Regions from separate parts of the Homo sapiens genome. Here region 1 is linked to region 2. Evidence: fine-mapped QTL for protein levels in blood plasma. Region 2 holds a variant in brackets. A gene starts in the other region. All regions are shown on their forward strands.

Region 1 (5,377 bases), not on the chromosome of region 2:
CCCCTGACTTACCCAGCCCCTGAGGTTGCCTCCAATCCAGACCTGGGCTTGGTTGACTGTGCTAGTGCAGCACTGAATGCGATAGTTGAAGTTGAAGTCATGGATAGAGACAAGGTTGCCTCCGTAGCATCTGCTGCAGACATTCTGCAGACGGAAACAAAGTAGAGAATTCCCTCTCATTTATTTCAAGTTTCTGAGTCTCCAGGCAAGAGCCCGGCATCCCTTTTCAGGTTAAAAATAAACCTACTTGCCTCCCTTAATCCTATCTTTTGCTTCTTAATTAGCTGTCAGGACAATCCTACAGGAAATGATAATACTCATAATAATTATAACCACCGCTTATTGAGAGTTTATTACAGCCCAGTGACTATTCCAAACACTTTTCATGTATTATCTCATTTAATGCTCACCACAACTCTAAGAAGTTGGTGCTATATATCTTCGTTTTACAAATGAAGGTGCTAAAGCTTTGAAAGGCAAAGCAACTTGCCCAGGTAACACAGCTAATAAAAGGCAGAACCAGAATTTAACACAGGCGTTTCTAACACCAAAGCCTTTTGTTTAAATCGGTGGTTCTCCCCAGACCAACAATATCATCATCACCTGGGGATTTGTTGTAAATGCAAATTCTCAGGCTTCACCTCAGCCCTCCTAAATCAGAAGTCGTGCAGGTGAGGCCCAGAAAGCTGTGTTTTAACAACAACTCCAGGTGATTCTGATGCATGCGAGGCTTTGAGAACCACTAGCCTAAATGAATAGGGAACAGAAGACTGAATGTACTCTCTTTTCCCCCAGGTCCTCCGCAGTAGCCTCCCTACTACTTACCTGAGCTTCTGCAAAAGTTTTAGGAGTCCGCACCAATAGGTAGCGGCAGATCTTGCACCTTGGACTTCCCTGCACTTCAACAATGTCTTCTTCCCTGGGGCACTGGAAGTCCTTGTCTAAGGCAGCTGGGTCCGACTCCATGGCTTCCTCATCCTCAAAGTTGTCTTGACAGGCAGAAGCCTTGACCTCCTCTCCCTCTGCCTGAATCACCTCCTCCGTCAGAGCCAAGTCTCTCTCCTGCTCCTTTGAACTATCCAGATCCTGGCCTAGGTCTGCCTGTGTCTCTAGGCTCTCCAGATGGGGGGCATCATTCTCTGGGAAGAAGAGGTAACCTGCCATCAGGTCAAGAGCTTCCTAGTTCCAGCACCGTGGACAGCTCCAGCAACGTCGCTCGAGCTTTCCTAGGAATTCCACCTGAAGACAAGACTGGAGGATTTCCTTGGTGTTAGGTAAGGAGAGATCTCTCGGGTCACACCCACAAATGGACAAGAACCTGACTTCTGGCCGACACCACGAGTGTGTGTTTTGAAGGTGGGAGAAAGCACGTGTGAGAAGCCTGGGGCAGTCACCAGCCCTTCATCTTAACAGGTGGGTGGTTTTTCCTTCTGAAAGTTCAGGTTACAGTTTGCCGGGTGCGGTGGCTCACGCCTGTAATCCCAGCACTTTGGGAGGCCGGGGCGGGCGAATCACAAGGTTAGGAGTTTGAGACCAGCCTGGCAAATATGGTGAAACCCCATCTCTACTAAAAATACAAAGATTAGCCAGGCGTGGTGGCATGTGCCTGTAGTCCCAGCTACTCAGGAGGCTGAGGCAGAAGAATTGCTTGAACCCGGGAGGCGGAGTTTGTGGTGAGCCGAGATCGCGCCACTGCACTCCAGCCTGGGCAACAGAGCGAGACTCCGTCTCAAAACAAAACAAAAAACAAACAAAAAAAAAAACAAAAACAACAACAACAAAAAAAAATCAAACAAAAAAGAGAAAGTTCCAGGTTACAGTTCTGAGTCCAAGTGATATCTTACCGGAGATGAGCTGTATCAGCTAAAGAGGGAAGGCTGTGGTCCTGGCCTCATGAGTGCAAATAAAAGCGGGGGGAGGGGAGTGTAGGAAAAAGGAAAAAAGGGAAAGACGCATGAGGAGGGAAGGGAGAGACTTACCCAGATGAAGAGCAGAAACTGTTCCCAGCAGGAGAAAGGGCAGGAGCAAGAGGCATTGCATATCTACTGTCTTTTAGCGAGGACACTACTCCACCGTCCTTCTTGGGGCTGTCTTTGTGTGTCTAGTATAGCCCCTGGCACATAGTATAGAGGGAATATTTGTTTAATTGTTTGATTAAAGAGCAAACAAGATTGCTTTCTCCTCTTGCCATGAACAGACCCTGAGCTGGAGAGTCTAGAAAAGGAATGGTGGGAGGGATAACTCAGGTACCAAATTTCATTTGTCTTCCAGTCTCCGTTGCTGCTCTCCAGTATCACCCTTAGCCCAGACTCCTGCCCCTGCGGGGACAGGTCTGCTTAGCTATGATGTTCCTAAGGACAGGCCTCCTACGTGTTTGCCCTATGAGGTGCTGCTTCTTCCCAGGGCCTACACTGGTCCTGCCTGGGCAGCCAGAAAAGAACTCACCTTCCAAGAGTCTGAGACCTCCACTCTCAGTGCCTCTGGCTTCAGGGGCCAGAAGCAGCCTTTATACTGGGTTTTTGGGGAAGTGGGAAGAGGCCAGAATGATTGCTCCAGGACAGAGTGGGGGACAAAGGAGCTGATAATGAAGTTTGCTCAGTCTTCTCAACCCTGTGCCCTGCTCTCTGCTGGGACTGCAGGGACCTGCCTCCTGGGGCCTACTGCCTTGTTTGGGTACCCCACACCCTGGTTTGCTTCAGAAGGCCCTAGATGTTATGTCCATTGTCCAGGCATAATTATTATTTATGCCCCCTAAAATGCCCCAGTCTGAACAACACGCCTTAACTCCAGGAGTAGCCTCCTGCTGGTGGAATCCCAGAGAGTGAAGTGGAGATCCCAGGGAGCTGGTGGGAGACAATGGGGGGAAGAAACAAGAGGGGAAAGGGAGGTTCAGTGCTCCCAAGCTCTCACCCATCCTAGGGGCATAGTGTGCAACACACCCCTCACCCTCATCTCCGCATCATCTCCACCAGGTACCACCCCTACTTCACAGAGGCAAAATGTGAGATTCAGAGAAAGAGAGAAGGCAACTTGCCAAGGTTCCATGGGAAGTGGAAGAACTGGAATTTCTAAGTCTTTTTGACTCCAAAACCTTCTCTCTTTCTTTCCTCTCTCTCTTTTTTCTCTCCCTTCCTCTTTCTCATCTTTTTTTTTTTTCTTTTTGAGACGGAGTCTTGCTCTGTCGCCCAGGCTGGAGTGCAATGGCAAGATTTTGGCTCACTGCAAGCTCCACCTCCCGGGTTCAAGCGCTTCTCCTGCCTCAGCCTCCCAAGTAGCTGGCTAATTTTTTGTATTTTTAGTAGAGATGGGGTTTCACTATGCTGGCCAGGCTGGTCTTGAACTCCTGACCTCGTGATCCACCCACTTCGGCCTCCCAAAATGCTGGGATTACAGGCATGAGCCACTGTGCCTGTCCTCATCTTTTTTTTTTTTAAGAGACAAAATCTTGCTCTGTCACCCAGGCTGGAGTGCAGTGCTGCGATGATAGTTCACTGTAACCCTGAATTCCTGGGCTCAAGTAATCCTCCTGCCACAGCCTCCTGAGTCACAGGGATTACAGGCACAAGCTTTCTCATCTTTAATGTGTGAAAAATCTACATCCTTTCTTCTGTGCTGTGGATCTAGATCAAGGTTCCTCAACTTTGTGCTATTAATATGTGAGGTCAAATAACTCTTTATTGTGGAGGGGCTGTCCTGGGCGTTGTAGAAAGTTTAATGGTCCCTCTGGTCTCTACTCACCAGATGTCAGTAGCCCCTCTCCCCACCCCCGCAGATGATCAAAAATGTCTCCACATGTTTCCAAATGTCCTCTGGGGAGAAAAATGGCCCCAGTTGAGGATCTCTGATCTAGGATATGCCACCTTGCCCAACCTCAAGGCATAGCTTCAGGGCTGGCAAACAGGCAGCATGAAAAGCTCCATACAGAGTCTCTCCAGCACTCTGTAGATCATCCTCTCCAACCAACACTCCCCTCCTCACCTCCCATCTCCCACCAGTCTTCTGTCACCCCAGGGTCTGGACTAGAATCAGGCAGGGGAGGCTCTCAACTCAGACACACTAAGAAATTAAGGGGACACTAAGAAATTTACTATTCAAGATAAATAACATTTTAATGCAACATTTCTTAAAAATTGAAATTAATGCAAAACAAAACATCAAAATTTTAACTGACCAAGCTCTAGACAAAATTTGCTGCACTTTAAAGAGAGGCCAGCATGTCTCAAGCCTTGAATTTGCCAGATGTCTCTGCCAAGAGCTAGTGGACTTGTCAGGGTGAACTCAGAGGCATCCTTGTGGGATGCTTCTCAGAACTATGCCTGGCACATGAGTGGAGGGTGACCCTTGTCAATTAAAATGTGCAGATTGGTAGGACCGGGCACGGTGGCTCATGCCTGTAATTCCAGCACTTTGGGAGGCATGTGCGGGTGGATCACCTGAGGTCAGGTATTTGAGACCAGCCTGCCCAACACAGTGAAACCCTGTCTCTACTAAAAATACAAAAATTAGCCGGGCGTGGTGGTGGGCACCTGTAATCCCAGCTACTCAGGAGACTGAGGTGGAAGAATAACTTGAACCCGGGAGGCAGATGCTGCTGTGAGCAGAGATCACGCCACGGCACTCCAGCCTGGGCGACGGAGCGAGACTCTGTCTCAAAAAAAAAAAAAAAAAAAAGTACAGATTTATTCCCCATATTCCACCCCAGCCCTCCATGGCTCAGGGAGCAGGGACAGGCAGCCCAGAGGGTGAGAAGACCTAAATTCCTTCCTCTTCTCTGCTCTTCCAAAAGACCCACAAATGGAGAAGTAACTGAGAGGCCATTTCTGAGTCTGATTGCAGAGTAACGGCCTTGATCACTATCTCCGTAGCCCAACGGACCAAACCCTCCACTTATCTACTTGACTGTAGGAGGACTGGCCAGGTCCAGGACCTAAAAACCTGGTCACTGGATTTCAAGCTTGAGACCTCCCTAGTGGTGGAGGGTGGAGGCATAGACCCCCATTTGCCATTATTCTTCCTCATTCATTGGCCCAAGCCAGGGGTACCATTTCACTTCGTGGCTGGGATGACCAATAAGGTTGGCTACTCTCAGGAACCAATACTACCATGAGCCTCACACTCATTCATTGTTTCTTTTTCTTTTCTTTTTTCTTTTTTTTTTTTTTTTTTTTTGAGACAGAATCTTGCTCCGTCACCTAGGCTGGAGTGCAATGGCATGATCTCGGCTCACTACAACCTCCGCCTCCCAGGTTCAAGCAATTCTCCGGCCTCAGCCTCCCGAGTAGCTGGGATTAGAGGCACCTGCAATCATGCCCAGATAATTTTTTTATTTTTGTAGAGACGGGGTTTCACTATATTGGCCAGGCTGGTCTTGAACTCC
Region 2 (5,377 bases):
TAAGGATTGAAGTGAGAAAAGATCATGCTGTTAGCTGGCTTTGGAATCCCAAGTTCACGTAGAGACAGGGATTCCTTGGCAACATGAAGTCTGGTTATCTCTTTAAATAGCTGACATTAAATTTGGTCAGGGAGATATCTCTCCACACTTGCACCATCTTCACAGCCTCAGGCTTGATTCTATGGTCAAAGGTGTAAGAGGATTGGCCATTGACCATTACCTACAGAAGGAAAAAAATACATCAGAAAGACAGTATTTCACCAAACAAGCTTTCAGCCTGCTCTCTATGGTGTCATAGTACCTGAAACATCCAACCAGAAAATGCCTCATTATATATCTGAACCCAGTAGACACACTTCTTTTTTACAGACTACCTGTTGTAACTATCTGAGACAGTTGCTCACTGTATTTTCAATGTTTCCTCTCATTTCTCCAGTGAGGCTCTGTCACTCTCTGTCACATGGGCCATATTTGCTCAGCCTCCCCTCTATCCTGGAAGATCTCCAAGGCCAGGGACTGTGTTTCATAAACTTGAATCCCTGCATCTTGCACAGGGCCAGCCACAGGGTAAGTGCTCAACAATGTCCACTGAATGCACACATTTCAGTTACATAAATTATGACTGCTATTTGCTGCTGATGACCCAGTTTCTCTCTGGAATTGCTCATATTTGAGCTAGTGGCGGCAAGGAATGTAACTCAAGTGTTCTTAGAGAGGTGGGGCTGGATTAATGTTACAAAACATAGGATATTATCTTTATTTATTTTTTTATGGTTATTAAATTATTTATTTATTATTTATTTTTTTTATTATACTTTAAGTTTTAGGGTACATGTGCACATTGTGCAGGTTAGTTACATATGTATACATGTGCCATGCTGGTGCTCTGCACCCACTAACTCGTCATCTAGCATTAGGTATATCTCCCAATGCTATCCCTCCCCCCTCCCCCCACCCCACAACAGTCCCCAGAGTGTGATATTCCCCTTCCTGTGTCCATGTGATCTCATTGTTCAATTCCCACCTATGAGTGAGAATATGCGGTGTTTGGTTTTTTTGTTCTTGCGATAGTTTACTGAGAATGATGATTTCCAATTTCATCCATGTCCCTACAAAGGACGTGAACTCATCATTTTTTATGGCTGCATAGTATTCCATGGTGTATATGTGCCACATTTTCTTAATCCAGTCTATCATTGTTGGACATTTGGGTTGGTTCCAAGTCTTTGCTACTGTGAATAATGCCGCAATAAACATACGTGTGCATGTGTCTTTATAGCAGCATGATTTATAGTCGTTTGGGTATATACCCAGTAATGGGATGGCTGGGTCAAATGGTATTTCTAGTTCTAGATCCCTGAGGAATCGCCACACTGACTTCCACAATGGTTGAACTAGTTTACAGTCCCACCAACAGTGTAAAAGTGTTCCTGTTTCTCCACATCCTCTCCAGCACCTGTTGTTTCCTGACTTTTTAATGATTGCCATTCTAACTGGTGTGAGACGGTAAACGTTAGACCTAAAACCATAAAAACCCTAGAAGAAAACCTAGGCATTACCATTCAGGACATAGGCCTGGGCAAGGACTTCATGTCCAAAACACCAAAAGCAATGGCAACAAAAGACAAAATTGACAAATGGGATCTAATTAAACTAAAGAGCTTCTGCACAGCAAAAGAAACTACCATCAGAGTGAACAGGCAACCTACAAAATGGGAGAAAATTTTCGCAACCTACTCATCTGACAAAGGGCTAATATCCAGAATCTACAATGAACTCAAACAAATGTACAAGAAAAAAACAAACAACCCCATCAAAAAGTGGGCGAACGACATGAACAGACACTTCTCAAAAGAAGACATTTATGCAGCCAAAAAACACATGAAAAAATGCTCATCATCACTGGCCATCAGAGAAATGCAAATCAAAACCACTATGAGGATATTATCTTTAACAGCGTATAAACATAGAAAAACACCTCTGACTTTAATCTGAATAAAATGTGAATGTTTTGGCCTACCCATTTGAAATGTCAGAAACTTTGATCACATTCTTTATTACTGAGGCTACACAGGGAGTCATATTTTAGGTTTCATTCTCAAATTTAAAATCCATACAACTTTGAACCAGTTATTCCTTTTCTTTATAATCATGTTCCAATATAAATAGGGAAAAGTTGGCAATGAAAAAAGGGTTGATTAGAAAGCTTAATACAGTAACATTTGTGAGAGCAAAACATTGGAAACCAACTCAGTGCTCTTGTAAAGGGTCAAGTACAGCAAGTTGAGGAAATCCTTCTAGGGGAATATTATGTAATCCTTAAAAAAATGAGGCAGCACCATGGATAGATTATTTCTCCAATATATATTCTTTGAGTACAACTCAACTGTCATTCCTAAAGTGTAATGTGTAGGGACATTGATACCAGCATTTGTTTAAAAACAAATAAAAGTGTATATATGGGTGTATGTATATGCTTCTATAAGGATAGACTATGGAAGAAGAGTAGAGAAGCTAGTAATATTGTTCTGAGGATTGGGATTGAGGAGTGAGAAGTCTTCATATTGGACTGACTAAAACAATTTTATTCATGTGTATATCTTATCCATTTAGCTACATGAAAATTTAAATAACATCATAAGGGGAAGATAGAGGATATTCTCCATTTGGGGAAAATGGCAAGTGAACCGACATTGACCCTGGTCAGGTATGGGAAAAGAGCTGAGGATGGCAGTGCAAGGAGAGGTGATGGCAGAGCAAGCAACAACACCTGTTGAATGAGAGAGGGAAATGATAAAAGTAAAGGGAACCCCTGTGTGTGTGATAAAAAGCCTGGGACAGGGGGAGTTATGGGTGATGAAAAGCCTGGGATAAGGGGAGTTGTGGGTGATGAAAAGCCGGGGACAGAGGGAGTTATCTGGAGTTAGGGCATGAAGAGCTGCCTCCTGCTCTGAGATCCCATGGAAGCCGGGTGCGGGGAGCTCCTGGGGTGCTCACCTGGTACTTATCTGGCAGCACTGAGATGCTCAGTTCAAATTCTTGGCCATCCTGAAAGGGCATATTCTTGGATTCCACCTGCTGCTTCCAGGCCCCATACTCACGGCT[G/C]TTCATGACCACACGACGACCAAAGCACACTTGGAAATGGAAGACAATGTCTGATTCCTCCTTCATCTCAGTGTGGAAATCCACCTGCAGATATGGTTCATTCCTGAGGGCAGAGCACACAGTGTTGAGCAGGTCCCTTTCTTGTGGGGCACACACAAGACACACACACAAGTCTCTTTGCCCCTTCCGTGGTCGAGCAAAGACTTGTTGGTATTCTAGGCCTTGTCATTGTGGGGCTGCTTCAGCTCCTTGTGTTCTCCATGGGTGGAAAGAGATGCTCCAGCCCTCATCCACAGATGGAAACTGAGCCATAGTCACTGACTTGGTCATATGAATTGCCCATTTTCTGAATATTCTATGCCTTTTAATAGATAAAGTGTCACAGCCCCAAGCCTTGAGTGTCCTTTACTCCTAGACCCATGACTAGCCCCCAGTGCAGCTGCTGTAGGTTTTGTTCCTGGTGCTGGAGGGTCTCCAGGACCTGCACATTCATGGCACTTCCATCCTGCCAACTAGACTTTCCACATGATTCACACATGAGGTCACCCCCTTAGAAAATATTCTTCCTCTTCTCCACCTCCCATCTTTGCACCATGGAGTACTCACAAGAAACAGGCAAGTGGTCGCCCTTTGATTGTCACAGTAGAACCAGTAGACAAAGAGGCAGCCTCTGTGTATGGCACCTGCCAGGGGATTGAGAGTGGGTGAGAGAGGCAGGGCCAGGTGTGGCCTCCCCTCCTGTAACAGATTCCCATGGTGCAGCCAGTTAGAGATCAAGCAGTAGACTCAGGCCTCCCTGCTCCCACCCTACCTCAGTCAGGACCCCGTATTTTTCAAAACAATGGGGCCCATGGTTAAGAGCAGAGCTTCAGAAACTGAGCTACCTCAATTAGATCCTTTATTGTGCTGACTACTAGCAGTGAGATGTTAACATGTTTTGAACCTTTTTTTTAGACAGGGTCTAATTGAATCACCCAGGCTGTAGTGAACTGGCACAATCACAGCCCACTTCAACCTCAACCTCCCAGGCTCAAGCCATCCTCTCAATTCAGTTTCTTGAGTAGCTGAGACTATTGGTCCACACCCAGCTAATTTTATACGTATTTGGAGAGTTGGGGTTTCACGATGTTGCCCAGGCTGGTCTGGAGCATCTAGGCTCAAGGGATCCTCTTGTCTCAGCCTCCCAAACTCCTAGATTACAGGGGTGAGCCACTTTGCCCAACCAGCAAGGGGACCTTAGATCTATTGCTTAAACTCTCCCTGCCTCAGTTTTCCCAATACAAAGATGATAATCCGAAATACCTACTTTGTATCATGTTTTCAGTTATACAGTAGTTAATAGATGTAAACCCTTTAGCCTAAACCCTGGCACGTATAGGGCCTGTTGGGGGTCCTCTATCTGAACAAGGAGGGTCCTTGTGGAACACTGACCTGCGATCATCTTCAACTCTGAAACTGTGAAAACAAGATGTGAGGATGTAACAGTAGAGAGATTCACTCCAGTAAGAAACAACAACTTTGGGTTAGTTTCAATTTGAGAACAGCTACAAATAATGACACTATAAACATTTCTGTATAGGATTTTCCATAAACTAAAGTGTTTACTTGGCTAAAATCTGGTGAGTAAAGTGTTTCTGTTTGTTTGGTGATTTTATGTTTAATTTTATGGGAATACCAAACGATTTTCCAATGTAGCTGTATCATTTTACATCCCTCCAAGCATCGTTTGACTGTTTCAGGTACTCTGCATCTTTTCTAACTTGAGATTGTGAGTTTTATTTTTTATTATCATTTTAACCACCAAAAAAAAAAAGAAAGAAAGAAACAACACTTGTTGAAAGAGAGAGGGAAACGAACAGGAAAGAACAGGAAACCCCTGTGCGTGGGAGGCACATACATCACAATCATCATGGGCAATGGACGTCCTTCCCAGAAGGGGCACACATTGCTGAGAGCACAACCGCAGTACTTGCACAAATGAAGATTGTGGGTCAGGGAAGTTATTGGCTAGAATCTATAAATGGATGGTATTTTTCTTTTTTGAAACAGGGTCACACTGTCACCTAGGCTGGAATGCAGTGGCACCATCAAAACTCACTGCAGGCTGGGCGTGGTGGCTCACGCCTGTAATCTCAGCACTTTGGGAGGCCAAGGTGGGTGCATCACTTGAGGTCAGGAGTTCGAGACCAGCCTGGCCAACATGGAGAAACCCCATCTCTACTGAAAATACAAAAATTAGCCAGGAGTGGTGGCACAAGCCTGTAATCCCAGC

Direction of the effects. Alleles are on the strand shown, and positions count from the first base shown. The strength of an association depends on the size of the effect and on how common the allele is.
With allele C in place of G in region 2, the plasma level of the protein whose gene starts at base 2,482 in region 1 is lower (weak association).

What was found. PIP is the posterior inclusion probability: the model's chance that the variant is causal. Protein levels are from antibody-based Olink assays in UK Biobank. Linkage for the fine-mapping came from a reference panel and not from the study's own genotypes, which makes the PIPs less certain.
Region 1: PRG3 starts here. The variant in region 2 is fine-mapped to the plasma level of the PRG3 protein (UK Biobank, PIP above 0.99).

What each region holds. Positions count from the first base shown.
Region 1 is chr11:57,378,669-57,384,045 of GRCh38, forward strand. PRG3 (proteoglycan 3, pro eosinophil major basic protein 2) reads right to left here and starts at 2,482. Exons shown (of 6, transcript NM_006093.4): 1 at 2,446-2,482; 2 at 1,980-2,113; 3 at 826-1,139; 4 at 13-144. The coding sequence starts at 2,040. RefSeq lists an enhancer at 671-1,870.
Region 2 is chr19:39,731,286-39,736,662 of GRCh38, forward strand. CLC (Charcot-Leyden crystal galectin) reads right to left here. Exons shown (of 4, transcript NM_001828.6): 2 at 3,712-3,788; 3 at 2,998-3,208; 4 at 1-220. The coding sequence ends at 95. Among named protein-coding and RNA genes, the nearest start is that of CLC, 4.1 kb to the right of the region's middle. The variant G/C (reference allele first, on the strand shown) is at 3,106.